3 separate regions of the Homo sapiens genome follow, and all the other regions are linked to region 2. Evidence: fine-mapped expression QTL. A gene starts in region 2. Each other region holds a variant in brackets. All regions are shown on one strand. Distances are from middle to middle.

Region 1 (8,000 bases), 320 kb after region 2:
TGATTTAGAAAGCTTTTAAAGATGATATATGAAATTCCTTTCAGCCCTTTAATAACTGAGGGGTCACCCATTTAATCAATGAAACAAAAATCCTTTTCCTTGGAGTTGGGGTTGAGGGTAGAGAGAAGTATATGGTTTGTTTTCTTTCTTTTTTTTTTTTTTTTTATTGATCATTCTTGGGTGTTTCTCGCGGAGGGGGATTTGGCAGGGTCATAGGACAATAGTGGAGGGAAGGAGGGAAGGTCAGCAGATAAACAAGTGAACAAAGGTCTCTGGTTTTCCTAGGCAGAGTGTTTGTGTCCCTGGGTACTTGAGATTAAGGAGTGGTGATGACTCTTAACGAGCATGCTGCCTTCAAGCATCTGTTTAACAAAGCACATCTTGCACCGCCCTTAATCCATTTAACCCTGAGTGGACACCGCACATGTTTCAGAGAGCACAGGGTTGGGGGTAAGGTCATAGATCAACAGGATCCCAAGGCAGAAGAATTTTTCTTAGTATAGAACAAAATGAAAAGTCTCCCATGTCTACTTCTTTCCACACAGACACAGCAACCATCCGATTTCTCAATCTTTTCCCCACCTTTCCCCCTTTTCTATTCCACAAAACCGCCATTGTCATCATGGCCCGTTCTCAATGAGCTGTTGGGTACACCTCCCAGACGGGGTGGTGGCCAGGCAGAGGGGCTCCTCACTTCCCAGTAGGGGCGGCCGGGCAGAGGCGCCCCTCACCTCCCGGAAGGGGCGGCTGGCCGGGCGGGAGTCTGACCCCCCCCACCTCCCTCCCGGACGGGGCGGCTGGCTGGGCGGGGGGCTGACCCCCCCCACCTCCCTCCCGGACGGGGTGGCTGGCCGGGCAGAGGGGCTCCTCACTTCCCAGTAGGGGTGGCCAGGCAGAGGCGCCCCTCACCTCCCGGACGGGGCGGCTGGCCGGGCGGGGGGCTGACTCCCCCACCTCCCTCCCGGACGGGGCAGCTGGCCGGGCGGGGGCTGACCCCCCCACCTCCCTCCCGGACTCAGAGTCTCGCTCTGTCGCCCAGGCTGGAGTACAGTAGCACAATCTTGGCTCGCTGCAACCTCTACCTCCCAGGTTCAAGAAATTCTCCTGCCTCAGCCTCCCGAGTAGCTGGGATTACAGGCGCACACCACCATACCCGGCTAATTTTTGTATTTTTAGTAGAGACAGGGGTTTCACCAGGCTGGCCAGGCTAGTCTCAAACTCCTGACATCGTGATCTGCCTGGCTGTGCCTTCCAAAGTGCTGGGATTACAGGCATGAGCCACCGTGCCCGGCCGGTTTGTTTTCTTAGAAGAAAAGCAGCTAAGGAAATTCTGCAGTTCGTATTAACATATCTCACATTTATATTTCTGAGTTTGAAAAACACATGTATGTGAGAAGACAAGCTCTGATCATATCATGTTTAATAAATTACCAAGAAAGTATTTTCAACCTGAAGCATTCTGACCCCAAGAATTTTGGCTCCAGTTAGAGATCCTACACCATTCACAAGGGAGCTGGTAGATGACTAGAGATCTACACCATCATCTCATGTGTGCTGACCTGAGTTCTAGCTCATTTGTGCCCACTGGGAGAATGACTGACAGTTTGTTCTTTGAGGGAGCTAGCAGAGTCAAAACAACACTCTAGAAAACTCACTATTGGCAGCCTGTGAGAAAGCAATTCAAAATCCACTACTTAGAATAATGTCATTATTATTTTATTCTAATTACAGGCAGAGCCACAGTTTCTATAAATGTTCACTTTTTTAATTTGAAAATGGAAAAATTTAAAATTTTAAAAAGTTTTAAAAGGTTTGAAACAATTTTTGAGGATGGGAGAAGGGATAATAACTTACTAATTAAGAGAAGATATGAGCTGGGCACAGTGGTCCACACGTGTAATCCTAGCACTTTGGGAGGCCAAGTGAGGAGGATTGCTTGAGTCCAGGAATTCATGACCAGCCTGAGCAACATAGTGAGATCTCATCTCTGCAGAACATTTTAAAAATTAGCCAGATGTGGTAGCACACATCTGTAGTCCTAGCTACCCAGGAGGCTTTGGCAGAAGCATCACTTGAGCCCAAGAGTCCAAGGCTGCAATGAGCTGTGATCTCACCACTGTATTCCAGCCTAGGTGACAGATACCATGTCTCAAAAAAAAAAAGAGAGAAGAAGATATGTAATACCTGCTAGAAGAAATCAGACCAGGAAGTCCAACAGGGTTAAACATGGCAGCCAGAGGAAATTGTGTTTGTGGTGTATTATGTGTGTGTGCATATATGTGTGTGTGTATATATATATGTATATAAATATTCATGTGTGACATCATAGCTTAAGAGAATTTCCAACTTGAAGAAATGATAAGTGAGAATGTAATAAAATTTCTTGAAGTTGGTATCAGTATAATCCTAACCATATTTTTTCAAGCAAAACTCTTAAAGTAGGGAATAAAGTACATATTCATTGAAATAACTGTAACCGATGGGCCTAATGTATCTAAAAGTAATCTTGTACTCTTTTGTGCTGAAGCAAGTAGAGTGCCTTTTTGACCAACCTAAGTCCTTTTTATACATCATATTCTTGCCTTATTGATGAAACCTACTGGACATAATACACAAATACAGCTACAGTTAAATGAAGCATACACACAATTCATTACCACCTACCCTCATTACCTGTTCTGGGATGGTTTTTGGTACCGCTATCTTAGCTGTCCCTCAGATGCCAATATTGAATATGCCCTTTAGCCCATATCATCATGTCACTCAGCGATTACGGACAGCACAATTTTCTTAAGATTTCCCATTGAGGAGCTTCTGTTGTTTTCCAATTTTGCAGAGATTACTCTAGTTAAAAACAAACCAAAAAAACCCAATTGTCCTATCACTTCAGGCTTTTCAAATACGGTCCAGTAGGCTGAATAGGAATAGGTTTCAGAGATCTGATTTTATCTCAGTTTTGTATGTTGAATGTATCCTTTCAATCTTCCTGTTAGTGTCCTTAAATACCCGTCCCCACCACACATACACACACACACAGAAGAGTATAATGCTGAGCCACCATGCTATGAAGAGGTTGCATGTAAAACAGAAATAATAACACTGGAAGTATTTTGTGTGTATTTAAACATTAGCAATGCAATGTTACTTTCAAATTGTAAGTATTTAAAAATCAATATTTTGAGTTAGGAATCAGGTTTGAAGTTAGCCAGACTTTCAGAATTATAAATCAAGAAATGATATATGGCAAATGTGCAGCAAAGATTTAAAGCACCCTAACTGAGTCTGAGATACGCTGCTTCTCTCATGGTACCTTATATACCACAGGGGGTATGAATGTTACACAAGAATAAGAGGGTTCATTTTACTCTTTTGTTTGACTGTGTGAAATATGCAGCTTCCAACTGCATCCTTGAATTTTCTTATATATGTGTGTATATATTAGATTGTATTTTATTCTAGTATTACCAATTTCTCCATTATATATAAAGTGACAGAAATCCAAAAGAATTTATAAATTATAAGTAAATCTTACAATATTTTTTATAAATTCATTTTCCTTTTTGAGCTAAGTCAGCATTATCATTCCTGTTTTCAAGGTACAGTTTATTTAACCTAATAACTTTAATAATTAATGAATTCTAAAATAATGCAGTTAGTTAAATTTTACTTAATTTTTTTCCCAGGAAATCAAGATATTCAGATTCATTTCAAAGTATAGTTGCTTTTCTATATACTTGGATAACTAACATTTTTCAGAGAAAAATTTGTCAAAAAAAATAGAATCCTCTTTATGCTATTAAAGTATATTTCCCAAGTCCTTGGGGTTTCTTGACACAGAGAGCTCCAATGGACTTCAGAGGATCCTTGTTCTCAGATCCTCCCTGCGGGGTGCACAGCAAGACAAGACACAGTGTATTTCTACCAGCTCATCTATCT[A/G]TCTCTGCTTTACATTTTAACCATTTTCTTCTGGGAATAACTCATTCATGAAATGTTAATTTTTATGATACAAGTTGTTGTAGTTAAGACAAAATTCTCTGAGCAATTTTCTTTAAAAAAAAATCTAAAAACTAATTCCAAAACAATGTAAATAGGAATGGCTTAGGAAAAAGTAAGCCAGTAAGTAAGTAAGTTATTTCTTCCATTTGAAATAACAACTAAAAAATGTTTAACTCTGAAGTTTTTTTTTACAAGTTAATGAATTGGACCTTCAAAGAATTACAGTTATACTACTGTATAAACATGGTTTATAGTCCAATGTCATTCTACATTTCCTATTGATGTGGAGTATCAGGTATCCTGCCATGGCTAAAATTGTGCGGTAATAATGAGACTAGCAAATTTAAATAGAATATGAAGCAACGCACTGCTAACTTGGTGTTCGATTAGATTGCTAATAACAGTCATTTTATCTTCCAAGGAAAGTTCCAAAGTAAATCTACTCTTAAACTAATGATAGGAAAATATTCTAAAGCAGTTTTCTTTTGAGCCTCCTTTTCCTCTAAGAGTACATAATAAATTCTCAAGTCCTAAGGTGTCTCTTGTTCTTAAGTACAGTTGTTAGCTATCTTTCTTTTTTCCTTAAAGTTCATGTAAAAATGGTTGAAATAGTGTTATCTGTATACTGCATGTAGAATTAAAAGGAAATGTTTATTAAAACAGTGACCTTTCAAAGTTTGGTTAGTGAAATGACTAAGGGAGTTATTGTTCCATCTTGCCTTATCAGTGGGTAGGATCTCTTCATCATGCCCCTGCTGGGAATGTTTTAAACTCTCCAGTGTTTTAGGAACTCTATAAGCTGAGGGTGGGAAATTGAATAAATATTGATTCTGAAGCTAAGAAAATAGTTGTGGTAGGTTATTGGGGGTTTTTTTATTTTTTTTTAAATTTTCATTTGGGAAGGCATTAGTACTTGTCAAAGTGCAAAGAATGAAATAGAATACATGGTAGAAGTCTAAGATTAAAATTAGAAGTATGCTTTGTCCTTAGGGATGCTGTTTCAATATTCGAAACAGTACAGTGCAAGAGGGAAATTAAAATTTTCAACAATGCCTTGTTTTCTAAATCTTGTTTACAGAATTCTCCCAATAATATGAGCCTGAGTAATCAACCGGGCACTCCAAGGGATGATGGCGAAATGGGGGGAAATTTCTTAAATCCTTTTCAGAGTGAGAGTGTAAGTATTCCCTTGACTATATTATACTCAAATTTTATTTCTGAAGCTCTTCTGCTAGAATAAATGCATAAAGCCACTTTTACTGCTGTTTATCTAGAGTTCAACAGGTTTATCTTTTAGATAAGAGAAACTTTAAGTGGAATATCTTTGAAAATAATTTTTAAAACAAACTTTTTCTTTTTTATTCTGTGTACATAGTTAGAAAAACCATAATAATAGTTTTCTCATTGAGAACCTCCACTGTAAAGGAACAAACTGGAAACAGGTTGCCTATTTGATACTTTTTATAAGTTTTCATGCTACTAAAATGTCTCAGGTTGCTGCAAAACTAGGTGTGTTTCAGTGCTGTCCTCAAAATCTAAAAAGTCTGTTCTTACTTTATATAGTAGACCTCACTGGACTGAAGGCCAAATTGGCGGTCTGTTAACCTGAGCTGAATACCCAAGTCACTGCTTGCGTGTGATTGTACTGTTACACAAAAGTTCATTCCATATCTCCATAGAAGTAGACAGAACCAAAAAGAGAAGCAATAAAATTCATTCATTTAACAAGCAATTACTGAGCACTTACCACATGCCAAGGCAATATGCTAGGTATTGGAGAGACCAAAAAGACAAAATGGTGCCTTTTCTCAAGGAGTTCTATGTAATATAATGATTTTTTACATTAATATTTCACATTAGAAACCCCAATGGAATTTTTTAAAATACAGTTTCCCAGAACTCTCCCTAGACTTAGTGAATCAGAATTTCCAGGAGTGGAGCTGGGCATACTTGAATGTGGAAAAGCTTTGTTGCTGATGCTGGTGTACATTCTCTGCTAAGAACCACTGAACTGGAATGTAGCATAAAAGATTTCAAAACCCAAATGAATTTCATCTTCACAGGATTCATAGCATCCTTAAAATTTCTTACGGAGGACCTACCAAACTGCAGTCAGAATCATGAGAGAGACTACCCTCATTTTGCCCAACTCAGCATTTACCAGAGGTGATACCATCAGAATTTGAAGCACTGGCTAATAGCACGTCTACCTTTATACAGAGTGGCTGTTCCATTCCCAAAACAGAATACAAGATTGAGTGCTCTGTGGATTCTTGTAGTTCTGATATCCACATGGGACCTTTGCAGGGGACAAGACATCCCCTGTTTTTAGAGTTCGTTTCTGTTAAAATTATGCTGATCTGTAGTTTACTTGCAGGCAATATATGATTAGTGAGGACAAATAATTTTTTATGTGTAACAGTTTACAGTTGAAAAAAAAATTTAGCCTGTCAGTGTTAAGGAAAAACATGAGAAGCTACATAATTTAAGTCATAATGCTTAAGATTATGGGAATTATTTTTTAGATCCTGGTTCTTTGAGTGGTTTGCTTCAAAACTATGGACAAATTAATTTTTCTATGTTCACTTTTATCTAATTAAAGACATTTATTTCCTTTTCGAGTAATTTTACCAGCAATAAAGTGGTATAATTCAGTGAGGTATTTGATAATTCAATTCAGTTTAACATTTATTGAGCCTATTATATGCAAAGCATCAGGTTAAGACCAAGGTATTCTGAAATAAATATAACACCTACTTTCAAAGAGTGCAACCCAATAGGAAAAACAGATGTTGATATAACTAAAACGTGTCAGATTAATGAGTGCTGTAATGTATATATAAGCCATGTATTTTAAAAGTCAGAGGAAATGATTAATTTGGAGTTGGAAAAAAACTTTTTTAAAAAGCTTCCACATGACTTTCACTTATGGGCAGTGACAAGAGGAACTCTTCCCTCTACTTCCTTCCCAGATTTGTCATTAGTGACTGCTGTCTTAACAGTTGGAAGAGGGGTACCAATTCAGAACTGGCATCAGAAAGCTCTTCACTGGGGCAAAGATTCAGATATGCCAGGATGTGGAGAACTTCCTTGCACAGAATAAGCCCCAGCTTCTCCCTTCAATCCCTAATGGACTATGCACATGGCAAACAACAGATTCTTCTGTGAATATGTGCATTTAGAAACGAGAGCAGCTGGAACAAGGCTTCTTCCACCCCTAACTTCTGGCTCACCCTCCCTGCCCCTGAACTTAAGCGGGTTCAATGCTAGACTGCCAGCAGAGTTAACAGCAAACAGAAGTTCCCTGCTTTCTCTTCCCTCCTTGTCTCCTGTCCCCACCAGAAATGTTGTAAAAGGAAAAATAATTTGATGGTGGACTGAGAAACTGCACCACCACCCTGGAGGGTAGTACAGCCTTGGAAGCAGGTACACACTGGCTTCTCCATTCTTCTGTCTCCTGAGAAGAAGGGACTTGTTATGAATGATATCATTGTTATGTGTGGCTTTCTTTGTCATATTACTATACATTTTTGTTTAGATCTTTTTATAAAATCAAGCAATAAGAGGAGAGAGGAAGAAAGACAAAAGAGATTTGGTGCTGACAAATGTAAGGCTTTGAAGAAGTAAATAAGCTAGTTATCCCCAATAAGTTAGCTTTGCTATAATCAAGGAAAAGCAGAACTCTTAATGAATTCAAAAAGAAAACATTGTTCAATAAATGAACATGCAAGTTCTAGTGTTTAATACACATAACTCTGAAAGCACATATTTTTGAGCAGTCTGCCTTTTAAGGATCTGTCAGGTTTTATCTTGAAGTTAAATCACAGAAGGAGGCCTGGGAAGGGAGCAAGTATCTATTGAGTACTCTTTATGTACTAGATACTATCCTAGTCTCTTCACACTCACACATGCTGCTTCATTCAATTAATATAGAAACAAAAATGCCCAGCCCAAAGTCATAAACCTTGCGGTGCCAACATGCTTGACAAAACAAAATGCGAATC
Region 2 (8,317 bases):
CCATTCTGGTGACATTGCTGGTCAGGGTTCCCCTATGCCAAATCCAGGCTCCCCAAATTCATCAATCTCATATGTGGGTTAAAAAAAAAACTCTAAAAATACATTGTGATTCTCTACACTAGGAAGCTTTAAATCTCCAATCTTTTCCCTTTTTAAAAAATGAAAACAAAACAATGGATCTTCATTTTTGTGTCTGGGATCTCAAATTTGGCTCTGAATATGTGTTTCAAATCTCATTAATTACAATATTGGTCCCAGGAGATACAGTTGCTGATGCAAAGAACACTCTTTGTACTCAACATAATTTGAACAAGGGCAAAGAAGCATTTTATTTACATGTGAAAACATTTAGAGGAAAATAAAACAGAGATGGTTCAGGTAGCTGCTGAGCTGTTTTAATGATAATTGATTTGATTACTTAAGCTTTAAGGTTACTATATACAGGATACATATACATATAAAAGTCATGTTTTCACTTTGTATATTTGTCAGATGAGAACATTCTTATAAAGGTAACTCTGACATTAACTTCGCAAGTTCTGAACTAAGACCTTTTAGCATTTTATTCTTTCCAAAGACTAAGACCAAATTGTTCTAAATTCCATACCCCACTGTGCAGATCTATAATTTATTTATTTTTTAAACATCAGAAAATATGCCATTACCCATAGGACTTCCAAATGTAACAAATCTGGGTAAAAACCAATCAAATGAATAAATTATAGCAGTAGACAGCAAACAGTTTCTCCTGTTCTCTTTCTTCATTTTCCTTTCTCTATAGGAAATAGCAAATTAAACCATGGCTATTCATGATCTTGTACTATGAGAACACATATGGGCATACATTTTTGTCCTATTAACAAGTTTGTTGGCTTGGTGGCAGAAAGTAAAGTACACTGTAAAGACATCTTAATGCTTTGAGTAGGGTCATTTGTTAATGGACAGCCCAACCTAAAAGTCTTGTACTAATCTCTTATGGTACCCATTGGCTGTCTTTAAATGGATACTGAAGAGCAAAGGCAGGCAGCCCTGGTTATACACAAGAACCACGTGGAGCTTATGAAAAAAATGCAGGTACCTGGGTCCATCCCCAAGGTTTCTGATCCAGTTAGTATATAAACAAACAAACAAAACCCAACAACAATGAAAATAAAGGCAATTCTAACGTGCCATGATTGAGAACCATAGTTAAGAGAGTCCCAACACCAGTGCAAGGATAATACCTACTTTGTTTTTGGATAGTAGGACAAAGCCCACCCTTGGTTCGTTTTTCCAGGGGCAGGCAGGAGGGTGTCTGAGAAGCTGCCAGAGCTCTCTGAGAACTGACAGCATTCTCTGAGCAGCACCTTTATAGGGAGTATTCTATAAGAGATGGAGCCTTGATATACTAAAAATTTTCTGGGTTAAGGCCAATGGAAGTAGATAATTGAACAAAAAAATTACATAATGCTAACCTTGAAGTTGAGTCTGTAAACTGTGGCAACCTTATACACATTTGAGCATTTTGAGCAAAAGTTCATTAAGAGAGGCTGACTGGCTCAGCTTCGCTTCAATCACCCAATCATTGCAGGTCATTAGAAACAAAAAGAAGAATATGAATGCCATATCCTAACCACCCAATAACTGTAGGTCATTAGAAACTGACAGAAGAATTCTTAAGTCAGAAATGGCAAATTACATCTCTTGGAAATTAATCTACTTAAGCCAGTGTATTTTTTTCCCCCACTTTTCCCCCCTCATTTCCTTTATTGGCTTAATTTTTGTCCTTTTAATAAAAGTGCTTTTTTTCTTATATCTTTTTTTTAACGATAATGTCTGTCCTCTATTACTTTTAATCTTTTGCTATCACACTCTATGGCTTCTTCATTTAATCCTGTATCTTCTAGTCTTCTCATCTTTTTATACCTCACTTTCCTCATGTTTTTTTCCTTGTCATTAACACCAGTATAGAAAGTCCTTCCTCTTCATTTTCCCGTCTTTATGTCTGGTTGCCAACCGCGTTTTTGATTCTCGACCTCTCACTTTTGCTAACTGCCCTTCCTTAATCATCTGTTGATGTTTTATTCCTATCACTTCTGTCAATGCTCACACCCATTTCTTTCCTTTCCATCTATCTGTATATCTCCATATGCATTTTATGATCCTCCTACTAAATGCTTAAAGCTGTGTGTGTGTGGAATAGAACGGTACCTTCCTCCACGCGAATCCGATTTCCCTCTCCTCCCATAGCTACTTCTTGTCTATTCATCCTTTCCAGATGTCGCCCTGTCCCACCCCATCTGTCCCCTTCTTCCCCGTGTGAAGCCCATCTTCTTTCTAACCCCATTTGCACCCGTCTGATTTTACAGTCAAGGACTTCAATAAGATAAATGATGCAGAGTTCTACTGGGAACCAGATTGTGTGTGTTTCTGAAACTTTTGCGCGTTTACTGAAATGGGATTAGGGATTTGGATACAGAAACATTCTCGGGCAGCCTTTCAGCCCTGGCACAGCTTTGTACACCTTGGAGCGCGCTGGGGCCTATTCTAACGGGCAAGGACAGGGAAGTCTTTCAAGACCTTTTCTGGCCTTTTCCACTCCAGGGGTCAGGATGAATAGGCATCACTGACCCAAACTGTTAAACCAGGCCGGGTGGGGAAGCCTGGGGCCCTCTTCTGCGGCAGATCTGGCGGGGTGTCCAGGGCGCCGCGGGGCTCCGTGCAAGAAGGGGTTGGGGCAGGGGCCGCTGCGGCCGCAGGAGTCACCGGGCCTCCTCGGGAGGTCCGCTCACCTCTTACAGAGGAGGCCGACCCCAGGCCGGGTGCTCCCCTGGGGCGCAGGGCGCGGCCCCGGGCGCCGCCACCGCAGCGGCGCCGAGGGCCGGAGGTGCAGCCTTTCCCCAGGAGAGAAGGCGAGTCGCTGTCGGTCGCTCAGCCAGAAGGTCGAGGGAACCGCGCGGGTGTCCCTCGCCAGCCGGCCCTCTGGGAACAGGGCGGGGGCGACACCCCAGGGAGTAGGGCTGAGGACCGCAAAAATCAATCGTGGGTACCGGCGCGGGGTCACGCATAGGAGAGGAGCGGGAGAGGGGCTGGTGGGGGCCCCAGGGCGGCTGAGGCCGTGGCTCTGTCGTGGACTCGGCGGGCGCCCCGAAGTCTGGGGCCGCCACGGCTCCAGCTCCGCCGGCTCCGGCCGGAGACTCCAGGCCGCAGTTTCTCCTCCTCCCGGCGCCTTCTCTCCAGTGAGGAGCTGAGCGCGGGCGGCGCGGGGGGAGGGGTGGCGGCGGAGAGAACAGCCAGTTGTTTAAAATCCTTCTAGAGCAGTTTCTAATTCCCCCCTTGCGCCCGGGTTCGGAGGGGGGAGGGGGAAGGAGAGCGGGTGGAGGGAGGAGAGCGGAGAGGGAAGGCGGGAGGGAGGGAGTCGGGGAGGGAGGGAAGGAGGGAGGAGACTGCCGCTGAGGCTTAGCCGCCACCGCGCGCTTCGGAAGGCCAGAGGGAGGGGGAGGCCTGTCAGTCTCGCGCGTTGCCTGGGCGAAGGGGGCGGAGCTTTGGCGTGGGGCGGCCAATAGTGGGGGTGGCTGCGTGGGTCGCCATGGGGACGGGGCTGTTCCCGGGGAGGCTGTGATGGGTTGACAGGTGCGTGACAGTGGGAGCTGCTCTCGGCACAAGCATGTACGGCAAAGGCAAGAGTAACAGCAGCGCCGTCCCGTCCGACAGCCAGGCCCGGGAGAAGTAAGTGTCTCCGCTTCTCACCCACCTCCGCCTTCACACGCGCGCACACTCACGCACGCACTCGCACACTCTGGGAGACACAGACACTCTCCGCCCGGGGAGCGCCGGGGGTGGGCTGGCAGGGGGAGGGGTGCCGCGATGGGGGCGTGTGGTGCGGGGAGCTGCGCTTTCCCGGGAGGTGCGGGCGCTGGGCGGGCGGCCGCAGGGGGCTGTCGGCGGGAGGGACCGGGTGTGTTGAGGGGCGGCGGTGGTGCTGGTGGCGAGGATGGAAACTTGTTTGGGTGATTGAGGGAAATAACCCGCGGGTTCACCTTCCAAAGTAACTTTAGAGCTGGGGTCCGGGGCTCCGGGGACCTGGGGAGCCGCCGGGGGTGGCGGGAGGGGCAGCTGCGTGGAGGAAGGCGCGCAGTGGGAATGTGGGTGTTTGGCGGGCCGGCCGGGGTCGGGGCCGGGGTCGGGGCGGGCAGCGCGGGGAGCGCGGCGGCGGGGGCCTGGGCGCTGGGGCTTAGGGCCGCGAGCGCGGGGCGAGGCGAGGCGAGGGCGGCGGTGCCGGGCGCGCGGCGGGCGGAAGCCGGGCGTGGAGCGGCCGAGCGGGGCCCCGCGGGGCGCGGAGACGCGCGCGGGGCGCGGAGGGCGTGTGCGGGTTGGGCGTCCGGGCTTTCCTGGGCCAGCTACGGACGCGGCGCCCGCAGTCCCCCGCGCATCGCGGGGCTGGGGCTGGGGCTGGGGCGGGGGCGGGGGCGGGTGGGCGCCGGAGACGCCGCCGAAGTTTGGGAGTCGGAGAGGGACCGAGTTCCCGGGGAGCTAAAGTGTGTTGGCGAGGAGCGGGATCCGCTGGAGGAGGCTGGCGTTTCTGCCTCTCGCAGCGGACCCAACTCCGCGGCGGCGGCTGGCGAACTTTTTGTGAGGCTGGCAGCCCCCGAGCGGCGGGAGGGGCGGGCCCGGCGGGGCGGTGGTCGGGGGCGCGCGGAGGGGAGTTGTGGGAGCCGCCGGGGGCGCCCGAGGAGGGCAGCTGTGGCGGGGAGGGCCAGTGGTCCGAAAAGGGGTTTGTGGGAGGGGAGAAGCGTTCAGGTGGGAAGGAGCCGCTTGGTTACAGTTGTGGGGAGATACAGGTGTTAACTTCGGTGGGAGCCCAAGAGGCGGCTGGCGAGAACAGAGCCCCTCCCGGCCCGGGATGCCACTGTCACGGCACACTGCAAAGCAAAGCGGTTTGCTGCTATTCTTGTGTACTTGTAACGGTGATTTGGTTGTTACTAAAAATGAGAACGAATAGTGACTGTGATCACTGAGGAAGAACCCCCCCCTTTTTTTTTTAAACTGTGCAACAGATCAGTGATTCCCAGTAACCACTTAAACTCTGAGGGTCAGAGTTATCCTTGTCGTTGAACGCACCCTGTCTTTCTGAGGGGGTTCAGACCAGAGAAAAAGTCTGAGAGCATCTCTCAAAGGTACTTTGGTTACCTTGCGCACAGAAATAGCTGCGTAAATAAAAACCGAATGCGCAGGCGACTGAGTTTCCCTCCTTGGTTTAGGCAGTTAGTCTCCCCCTGAAAGTTTTGTGTGCCCTAGGGATGGGAACATTTCCTAATCTTTGTGTTGGCAGCAACACACTCAATTCCCATAGGATTTAGAGGTATCAGGCCTTGATGTAGCAAAGCAAAACAAAACAAAACAAAAATTAGAGAGGCTTTTTTGTTTTTTTGCAAGAGATATTTTCTGAGCTGCATTCAGGATCTTGTTGCTGTGACAAGTAGTATATAAAAGACATAGCGTTATAGCCTGGTTAAGAAACGGCAGTTACTAGAATTGAAGTTTTGAAATGCAGTCTCATTTGTGTGCATTAATCATTTTGTTATAATGTGCCTGATAAAAACATCTGAAGGAGGATGTTTTAATGATCACAGAATATTTGAATTTCACATTAGTCAGAGTGATTGAAATGTATTGAGGCATGATCTTATTTTGGGGGTGACTGAATTTGAGAATCAAAGTAATTTTAGATTTTAGGTGAACTTCCAGGAAGGGGTGAACTTTAGTTGAATCCCACTCAGTATCCTGAGGACTGCTTGATTTTTTTTTTTAGTTTCTCAGATAATAACAAGGATGTTGGAACTTGCATAACTGTGGTCCTTTCTAGCTCTAATTCTGTGATTTCCCACCAGGAAAACAAATAATTGCCACTTTGCTGTCAAATCTACCAAACTGAACACCAAGTAATATCTACTCTCGTGAGCAGATCAGGGTTCTGCTAGATGGTGCTATTTGATTTAAATATATTTCTTCCATTCATTTCAATTGGCAGCAGGAATTCTTGACTGGTTTGCCTTATGAACTTAAATATAGGTGAAGAGGCCGCTTTTGGAGAATTGACAATGACTGTTCTGGGTTAATTGTCGTTGCATTAATTTCTAGGTTAATGTTGTTTGAATCTAAGACAAACATCGACGTAGGTTCTGTCTTATAGAATAAACTTAATTTCATCTTGGTGGGAGAGTTGATCTAATCTCTCGGTTTTTCTCTTTATGTTTACTTGGGACTTTAATGGCACTATTCTGCAACAATGTACTAACATCTGAAGGTAGGAATCTTGAAGTCATCATTAAAATGGATGTCACCAGATTTTTGTTCTTAATTTTTAAGGTAACAGATTATAAAAGGTGAAGAATTCTCCTTTAGTAAGCAAATTAGAACTGTTCTTATCTTAAAAATCACAGAAATAATTTGTTTCTGTAACAAATACTCATTTTAACAAAAACATTCTGCAAAAGGAGTCATTATTATAAATAATAGCATGCTTAGGAAATAAGCACATTGGTTTTATAATCAAGAAATGTGTTTTCTAACATGAGTTCATGGTGAATAGTTGACAAGTGCTTACCTGTATTAGATCTTTGTTTTGTCTTTCATTAGGAAGTCACTATATGAAATATTTGAAGTGAATTATTGGTTTTACACAATTCCTGTAATTTCAGTATACAGTTCTGATAAAAATGATCAGGGTAAGATTAGTTACTTACTCTGTCATTTTAAGAAAAGCAGATCAAGTCTTAATTATAGAGGGAGTGATTGAAAACCCTTGGAGGGAGGTGGGATTTAGAAATTTTAATTCTGATCTTGTTAGGTCATTTCTTCCTTTAGCAGGCTTTCTTTATAACACTAATCGCAATTGTGATTAAATAACCGTGATTGGCTGTTTAATGTTTAACTTTCCCTAAAATATAAGTTTGTTGAGGGTAGGAGATAATCTAATTTCTTCTCTGAGGTATCTTGAACATTAAGGTGCCTTCTAATACCAAAAGCATCAATAAATTATTGTTATTGAAGATGTTAGACTCAAAGGAATTTTTTCAATGTAAAAAAATTTTTTTTCAGTGACCTCCAAAATAAGGACTTGTAAGTTTGAGTTTCACATTCTCTAGCTTAGTTGTATTTCAGAAATACCCCTAAACAACAATACAACAAAAATAACTATTATTTATTTGCCATCCTGTGTGCCAGTCACTATGTTCAGTGTTTTATGTATATTTTTTTCTTAATTCTCCCAACAAATCTACAAGACAGTTGCTTTTTTTTTCCTCCATTAAAGAAATATGAAAACTAAGACCCTGAATGGTTAAAGAACTCACCGAGGGATACAATGCTAGAAAACAGGAAAGCTGGGTTTCTAACACAGATTTCTCTAACTTTAGAACCTGTGATTGAAGCTGAAAGATACATTTTTCAGTGTACCAGATTGTCTTCCTGAACTAGGGTAGGATGCTACAGATTTAGGGAACAGCATTACATAATCAGATGTGACAGACTTTAAAGATTTGATCAAATATGCAGTCTTAACCACTGGTGCACCCTGATGCTTTGCAGATCTGTGTATGGTGTGGGAGAAGGCACAGAAATTTTAGGAAAGTTGGAAGCCTAACATAATGACGAAAACTTGTTTCTTCAGATTCCCCCCCCCCCCAGGAATTTTGTTTGATTGCTTGTTTTAAAGTTAAACATAATAGTTGTGAACAATTCCTATATGAAATGTTGCTGAACTTAAAGCCACACAGTATGCCACACTACCGCAGAAAGAGTAACTGGCACCTGCAAATAGATGAGTAGTGATATTAATTTTTTATTAAACTAATTTGATCTTTTATGTAAAGCACAGAAAGATGAATCTGCTAGAAAGCAAAGTTGAACATAAAAGATACACATAATATATACCGACTTTTATTTAGTAAACTAGCCAGAAACTACAAGAATCAAACTGTCTAATCTTGAGCTCTGAAAAGTAACTTTGGCTTTTAAATTTTCAATGTTAGTTGAATATACCAAGAAGCAAATACCATATGCTTATTTCAAAGTAGTTACAGTATAATGAACATTTAAATGCCACTTCATATAAAAGGGATTAATATCTGCCAGCATCACCTTGTTCTCCCCTTCTACCATTAAAGTAATTAAAGCATTCCCCCATCATTAAGGTACCCCCTGCAAAGAAAAATGACAAACCTTTCTTTCTTTCTGAAGGAATAAGGCAAGAAAAGTAATAGAGATCTCTTCAGAAACTTACTTGACAGCAATTCGCACAATTCAGGATTTCCAAAACTAATGAAGGAGTATCTTA
Region 3 (8,000 bases), 290 kb after region 2:
GGATTCCTTCAAGGACAATGAAATGTAAATATTTACATTTTTACACTTGTAAATATTTTCCTCTAATAGGGAAACTTCTCAGGTATGAATGCTCTATAAGAGTGTAACTATTATATTGATATTGGCCCCAAAAAAGCAAAGGTTTGTTTAGAGACATAAAAAGTGAAACATATTATCTCCATTGCACTCAATAGGGTAAGCTTTATTGAAATTCACTTTATAATGTATTATCTTTAAAACAAAGTCTAACTGTAATGCATACACACAGTATTCCTAACGTATTTGTAGCTTCATGTCATTAAGGAATTTTGCATATTCCTTAAAAATGGAAGAAAAAGGCATTAGAAAGGTGTTACCTTACGCTCTGTCTTGAACTAACTAAACTATTTAAGTAACAAAAATATTTATGTGTTAGGAGGAGCATGCCAGAGACTCATATCTGGATAATTTTTCTTTAGCTTGTCATTTTTTCTTATTTGCCATGAGAGTATGATGACAATAAAAAATTCCCAACCCTGGTCACTAAAGTAATTAAAGACTATATTCTAACTGACAACTGTATTTCTTTATTGCAGAATAAATCATTCGGAAGTAAATTTGGTAACCTTATTGTTTAAAAAACTTTGTTTTCATGCTCTAAACTTAGGATAAATTATATTGTGTCACTGAAAAACTTACTTTCTATGTTTCTGTAACCAGTATTGTATCTTAGAAGCCAAAACTAAATTTAAGTAATTTAAAGTAGCATTTATAAGTTATGGCCAAAATATAATTTTCTAATGCATTGTAGATTACTGTTTAAAGGAAATTTGAATAATCATGTATTTCTAAATTAAATACATTTTTATAAGTTTCCAAAGAATTTAGGATTTAGTATTAAAGCACCCCTAACTCAACTTTGTATACATTACTATTAAGCAATACTACGAGGCCAAAAGGATTTCAGAGGATCTTCTTATTCTGTATTATATCCTGCAGAATTATGAAGTTTGTGTAGTTATTATTTTGAAATAAAATGATAGTGAATTACAGAAGAAAGAGGATTTTTCAGGCCAAGCATGGTGGCTCATGCCTGTAATCCCAGCACTTTGGGAGGTCAAGGCAGGCGGATCACTTGAGGTCAGGAGTTTGAGACCAGCCTGGGCAACATAGGGAGACCCCATCTAAACTAAAAATACAAAAATGAGCTGGGCATGTTGACAGGTGTCTGTAATCCCAGCTTCTTGAGAGACTGAGGCACGAGAATGGCTTGAGCCCGGGAGGTGGAGGTTGTAGTGAGCTGGGATCCTGTCACTGCACTCCAACCTAGGTGACAGGGCAAGACTGTGTCCCAAACCAAAAAAAAAAAAAAAAAAAAAAAGAGGATTTTTCTCTTTGGTAATAGTGGTTGATTTGATTTCATCAAAATCAACCTCCTTACCAAAAAATGCAGACTTCTGCACCCAGGTTGGAGTGCTGTAGCATGATCTCGGCTCACTGCAACTTCTGCCTCTCCGGTTCAAGCAATTCTCCTGCCTCAGCCTCCTAAGTGGCTGGGACCACAGGCATGCGCCACCACGCCCGGCTAATTTTTGTATTTTTTGTGTAGATGGGGTTTCGACATGTTGCTCAGAATGGCCTTCAACTCCTGAGCTCAAGTGGTCCCCCCGCCTCGGCCTCGCAAAGCTTTGGGATTACAGGCATAAACTATCATGTCCAGCCTCTCTTCATTTTTAAATGAGGCTAACCTGATTCTACTTCAAACCATACTTATATAGAAATTTTCATTCAAAATAATTCCTATGTTATAATTTGTAAATTACTTTCTTAATAATACTGAGGGCCCTCAAAAGGAGTGGGAATTACTGAGCTTAACTAGTTGTTCTAATAGAACTACTCCCTACTATAACCCTCACTTTTTATAAAATACTTGTGAAACTTAAAGTATTTTCAAACACAATGGTAATGTTAGGAGAAATTTAACTTATCCATATGAATTATTAATACTTAATAGTAAAATGAAATTTATTATGAAACACTTAGTATGTTGGAACTAGATTGGTATTTATCAAATTGAAATATATAATGTTATGACATAAATGTAACATTTAATTTAATGCAATTAAATTAAATTAAATATTTAATTATTTTAACATTTAGGTTAGCATGTTTAACATTAGAAAAATTTGAAAATAAAAATAGTTTATTCTATTTATGCATCTTATTCATACAGTACTTGTTTGGTTATGATATTTCAAAATTATAAGATTATCTACATAACATTATTATATATAAATTTTGCCAGGATCTGCATATGGTGTACTTTTATGTCATTTTAAGATAAATGTTCCCAAGTTTTTTTACTGTGTTTTATTTAACATCAAACAAATCATGTGGATGTACCTTACTACCCAAATGTTTTACTTGGTCAACACATATCTTATGTTTTACCTTAGATTCTGTCCATTAGGACACTGAATCCTATAGGTAAAATCATTTTTCTGAAGTGTTCCAGTAATTAATTGTAAAATCATCATCTCCATCATCATCTTGGAGAGGCAACAATTTCCAAAGACAATCAATACAAATGCCTCTCACCTTCTTTCTCCCTATGCACAAAATTTTATCAAGTCCCCACTGGTATCTTCTATACCTCAAGCTGAATTGGGAAAAAATTCCACTTGGGCATTCCTAATAGAGCCCAGGGACAGGACTCATTCCCTTCCCTGCTGCTCACACCTCTAGGGAATCTCAAAACAAAACTAAAAACTGTTCTAAATATTCCATGCAAACATGGGTAATATCATAACTAACTTGCTCAGCCTCTTTATCTAACATTTAGAACTAGCTTGTCCAACCTGTGGCCTGTGGGCCAAATGTGGCCCAGGACGGCTTTGAATGTGACCCAACACAAATTTGTAAACTTTCTTAAAACATTATGAGATTTTATTTGTAATTCTTTTTTTTTTATTAGCTCATCAGCTATCGTTAGTGTTAGTGTATTTTATGTGTAGCCCAAGACAGTTCTTCTTCCAGTGTGGCCCAAGGAAGCCAAAAGATTGGACACTCCTGATTTAGAATTTTAGGTTTAAGGTCTTAGAATCAAGGGATTTTTTTTAATTAAAAATTTTCATTGTCTTAGTGATTCAAATGAAGGGGAATTTTAAATGACCCTAATTAGAGGAGACCGACTGACAGTAGTCTGCTTTTCATAAGACAGTCTTTATTCAGGTACACAATTTAGTACTAAAGTATGAGGACAAGAGACCT[T/G]TTTGATTTAATTAATTGGGCATTAATTTTACTTTAAAAACTCAGTGTCCTTAGAAGCTGTGGAATACAGAACATTCTCCTTTACTCTAAAATGAAGTAATATATTGGCATAGATTATCTCCCATTTTTTCTAAGATTTGCTCTGGCCACTATCTGGACTGAAATTATGAGAACAAGAAATGGGATTTCTCATTTAATAGTAACTAAATCATCAGTAGCATTGAAAGATAGATTAATAAATATAAAAGTAATGTGTGATACTCTGTGGTTTTTTTTTAAAAGGCAACTTTAGATACCTTTTATATATTTTTATTTGCTTATAGCTTAAGATCAATCATTTTACATATATTGATGTTTTACAAATTTTATTTTGAATGAGATACAGGAAGCTCATATTGATATCACAAGGTTATGGTTTATATTTAGTTCATAATACTTTTCACTACAGAAGTGTGTTTTATAATGATTTCAATGTATGTATATATTTACTCCTATGAGCAGTTACCATCTTTATAACAATAACCATTTAATATTAAAATAAAACTGGGCTTTCTAAAAGCAGTTCAATTTGGGAAGAAAACTTTTCTTTTGGGGGACTTAATTAATATAAAAAGCTATTAAAATAAATATAAAGAGAGTAATTTCAGTGCCAAACTAGAACTGCATAGTAACTGAATTATAAATGTTATATTTTATGATTTGTCATTGATTATTGTGAAACCTTCAAAGCATAGGTTAAAATTTCATTTATCAAATTGTTTTGTAGGGGTCCAGGTGGTGGTAGACCTTGGCCAAACCCAACAAATGCCAATTCAGTGAGTATATATATATATTTTTTTTAATATTTTGCATTTTGTAACATTTAACAAAAATCACAAAAACATTTTGCTTTTGAAAGCTTTGCAATTGGTTGTAGTAACCCTTTTTTAAGTAATCATTCAAAAAGTTTAATATAAATTTTAGAAAAAGATGCATAATTTTTTGAAATTATGTAATTTTCTTTCACTTCAAGGTCTAATGTAAACATGCATTCTATTGTCAACAAGACTTTCAAAAATAAAAATTGAAATAGTGTGACTTAAGTATATACTACAATAGCCTATAAATAGTGATCTGTATCATAAAATGGTTTGATCTTCTAAAATAACTATTAATAATCACTGAGTTGCCAAATACAATCAACCTGTTAGAAGAAGCCAAATTATTATGATTTTATTTGCTATATCAATTACATCTAGGTTTGCTTTCTTGCTGCCCCAGAAAGCAAATGCATATTTACCTTGTACCTGTTAGCTAAATTGCCATCCTTGTACATCTCTCTATATACCTGACATCTTGGGAATTTTCCTTATATATTTGTGGCCGTGGTTTGATGGCACTAATATTTATCTCTCTTAATAATGTCACAGAAATATGTGCACAGGTTGAAAATTAAGCTATCGATCTTAATATGATTTTAATGTTGTGATCCTGGAGATGTTTTTCCTTCTTGTCTTTGAAACCTTGAGTTCTTCGATATGTGAGAGAAGTCTGCCATGTACATCTGTGTACTGTGTGCACTGCACAAAGGTTCCCGGGTCAAGAGAGTCAGTAGGAGAATGAAATACAACCTGTGATCCCCTTGTGAAGTCAATGGGCATCTACGCAAAGAGGATGCTTTTTGCTAATATGTACAAAGGTATCTTCATTGGCTAGCAGTGGCCTTAATGTTAAATGAATATGAAACCGATCCAGTGTTTAAGGTTAGGGTATAGGAAGAATCATCCTAAATCCATTGCTGTTTTGAAGCAGGAATCACTTTCAGCTCAAGTAAATAACTGTCATATATTTTTTAAAATGTTAATTCATGTTATCTGCTTTTCTCTTAATTTTAATAGCTACGATGTTTGCTAAGTAATTGAAATTATTTGAAGTGAAAAGAATGATGTTGCTTCCATTTGAGTCTTCAGTGTGTTATTTAATTTCAACAAGTCTTTCTCCTAAAATAGTGTTTTGCCAGATTGTGTTGGAATAGAGTACCTTTACACCCTCAAAATTATTTTCATTTGCTTACATGCTTTACAAGAGTTTACTTCTTATGATCTATTAGCTTCTTACTATTTGACCTAACCAATTCATTCAAGATTTCACTTTAAAATCACACCTGTCTAGCAGGTCAAGATACATTTATTTTAACTTCCTATTTAAATGCCCATAAAAAGAATGCAAGAAAACATTTTTTGTAACAAAACTCTTCCCAGTGCCAGAATCTGGAAAGAATTTCCATTATCTGCATGTCTCATGAAGCTAGATGGAAAAGCACAACCAATGGCTCACCTTAACTATGGAAACCTTCCCACCTAGAAGCACAAAAACCATTCTCTTATTCCTCATTGTCAGCTCAGCCAGTCATCCCTTTACTGCCATTGTAGGCAGCCAGAGTACAATTCACACCCACCACTACCCACCTTTATAAGTACCTTCTTTTACACACTCATTCAAAGATTATATCTCCCACAAGGCACCTAGGAAGGTGGACAGGGTTTGAGCGGTTGATATTGACAAGGATGTTTCATTGTACCAAGGGGGTATATTATCCAAGTAAACAGTATAGATGAGAGGGGAGCTCTGTGTTCTGATGACTTTTAGTTTTTTAGGTACTCCATCTCTTTAGGATTTCATAGCGCTGGGCACTGTGGGTAGGAGAATACGCTATAACACACTAGCAGTTATGCATTATTTTAGACCCTGAGAAACATAAGGAATTAGGGTAAAAGCTGTACACATCAAACTGCTGTCCACCAGTCTGAAATGGGCATTTGACTAGCACACATGTAGGCAAGTAATGGAGTTGAAAGCAGTCTCCTCGATGAATGTATACCAAATGTGCAAACATCTACCCTTACTCAAAGTATGAGAATAGGGAAAAGAAGTGGAGGAGGCCTATCATTCTCTCTTTAGAGAGAGAAAGTAGTCATCATCCTGAGCATCCAAAGGAAAAGTAGGCCTCTGAAAATGACCACTCTAAGAACAAGGGGAAAAAAATCATAGATAACTGACGACTTTCTAGCAAAGACCTAGGGCTTCTATGAAACAGAAGCAAAAAGTATTAAGGAGGTATTTTTCCCCAAAAACCATGGATCATTTTGTGGTGACAACTTATCCAAATTATGTTGAATTCCAAGTTTCTTAGACTTCCTGCCCATATTTAATATTAAAACACTTTTCAGTTCGTACCAATACAGTTAGTCTCTGACTCCTCAAGGCAGCATATTGAAGTAGTTGTTTGTTTTGTTTTTGCTGTTTTCAAATATGTTTTGTTTACTATTTTTTCTTTCAAGTGTTTATTTTGGAATAACTTCAGAGTTAAACATTGCAAGAATACTACAAAGAATTTCCATACACCCTTCACCCAGATTCCCAATTGTTAATGTCTTACCACATTTGCTTTATTATTTCCTCTCTCTACATAAACGTATTTTTAAACTGTTTAAATTTCCTGAAACTTTATCCCTAAATACTTGCATGTATATTTCCTAAAAAACTAACACATAATTTTTTTATAACCCCAGTAAAATGATCAAAATAAGGAAATCAATTCTGATGTAATGCTATTTTCTAATCTACAGATTTTATTCAGATTTCACTAATTGGCTCAATAATCTTTTCAAACAAAAGAAAATCCCAATTTACTTGTTACATTCACTTCGTGTCTCTTTGTCTCCTTTAACTTGGAACAGTTTCTCAGCTTGTTTTTGTTTGGAGCGGGAGGTTGTTTGTTTGTTTTGGCCTTTCTTAACCTTGGAGTTAAAAAACTCCAAGCAAGATTATTTAGAATGTATATAATTTGGTTTTATCTATTTCCTTCTGATTAGATTTAGGTTATATATATTTGTCAGGGATACTACAGAAGTAATTTTGTGGTTTTTGGCCGGGTGCAGTGGCTCACACCTGTAATCCCTGTACTTTGGGAGGCCGAGGCAGGTGGATCACGTGAGGTCAGAAGTTCAAGACCAGCCTGGCCAACATGGTGAAACCCCATCTCTACTAAAAATACGAAAAATTAGCCGGGTGTGGTAGCAGGCGCCTATAATTCCAGCTACTCAGGAAGCTGGGCAGGAGAATCACTTGAACCCAGGAGGTGGAGGTTGCAGTGAGCCGAGATCGCGCCATTGCACTCCAGCCTGGGCAACAAGAGTAAAACTCGGTCTCAAAAAAAAAAAAATTTTGTGTTTTTCTCAATGCATCATTTCAGGAGGCACATGATGATTTGTCCCATTATTGTTGATGTTAATTTTGATCATTTAGTTAAGGTGGTGCTTGTCAGGTTTCTCCAGTATAAAATAACTATTTTTCCCCTTGTACTTATTAACTTAGAGACTTACTTTGAATGTACAGTAGGTATCCTCTTCCTCCTTATACTTTCATCTGCTATTTTGGACATCTATTGATGATTCTTGCCTGAAACACTTTTTTACTTTGTTGGTTGCCAAATGGATATTTTTGAATTCTGTCTTTTCTTCTCCGTTTATTAGTTAGCTAACTATAACAGAGTTGTTTTTTCTTTTCCATTCATATTCATTTATGTATATACGATGTATTCATGAATTATTTTATTCTGTGGGTTTAGGATGCTAAAATTGTTCAAAGTTTTCCCCTTTAAGTGGGATCACTTAACCTTTTAACATGTCCCCATTTTTCTCTGAGCACATTGAAGCTCTTCTTATATTTTCCCAGTTTTAGCCCTGGAAACAGCCACTTCTTTAAGGAGC

Evidence for each region.
Region 1: its variant is fine-mapped to the expression of SSBP2 in tibial artery (GTEx, PIP 0.95).
Region 3: its variant is fine-mapped to the expression of SSBP2 in whole blood (TOPMed, PIP 0.97).

What each region holds. Positions count from the first base shown.
Region 1 is chr5:81,425,758-81,433,757 of GRCh38, reverse strand. It overlaps SSBP2 (single stranded DNA binding protein 2), which reads left to right. Exons shown (of 17, transcript NM_001256732.3): 16 at 5,075-5,173. Among named protein-coding and RNA genes, the nearest start is that of ACOT12, 36 kb to the right of the region's middle. RefSeq lists an enhancer at 29-714. The variant A/G (reference allele first, on the strand shown) is at 3,937.
Region 2 is chr5:81,746,372-81,754,688 of GRCh38, reverse strand. SSBP2 (single stranded DNA binding protein 2) reads left to right here and starts at 3,592. Exons shown (of 17, transcript NM_001256732.3): 1 at 3,592-3,708. The coding sequence starts at 3,647. RefSeq lists silencers at 2,691-3,040, 3,311-3,640, 3,811-3,860, 4,301-4,350, 4,571-4,730.
Region 3 is chr5:81,457,119-81,465,118 of GRCh38, reverse strand. SSBP2 (single stranded DNA binding protein 2) reads left to right here. Exons shown (of 17, transcript NM_001256732.3): 10 at 4,016-4,064. Among named protein-coding and RNA genes, the nearest start is that of ACOT12, 67 kb to the right of the region's middle. The variant T/G (reference allele first, on the strand shown) is at 3,250.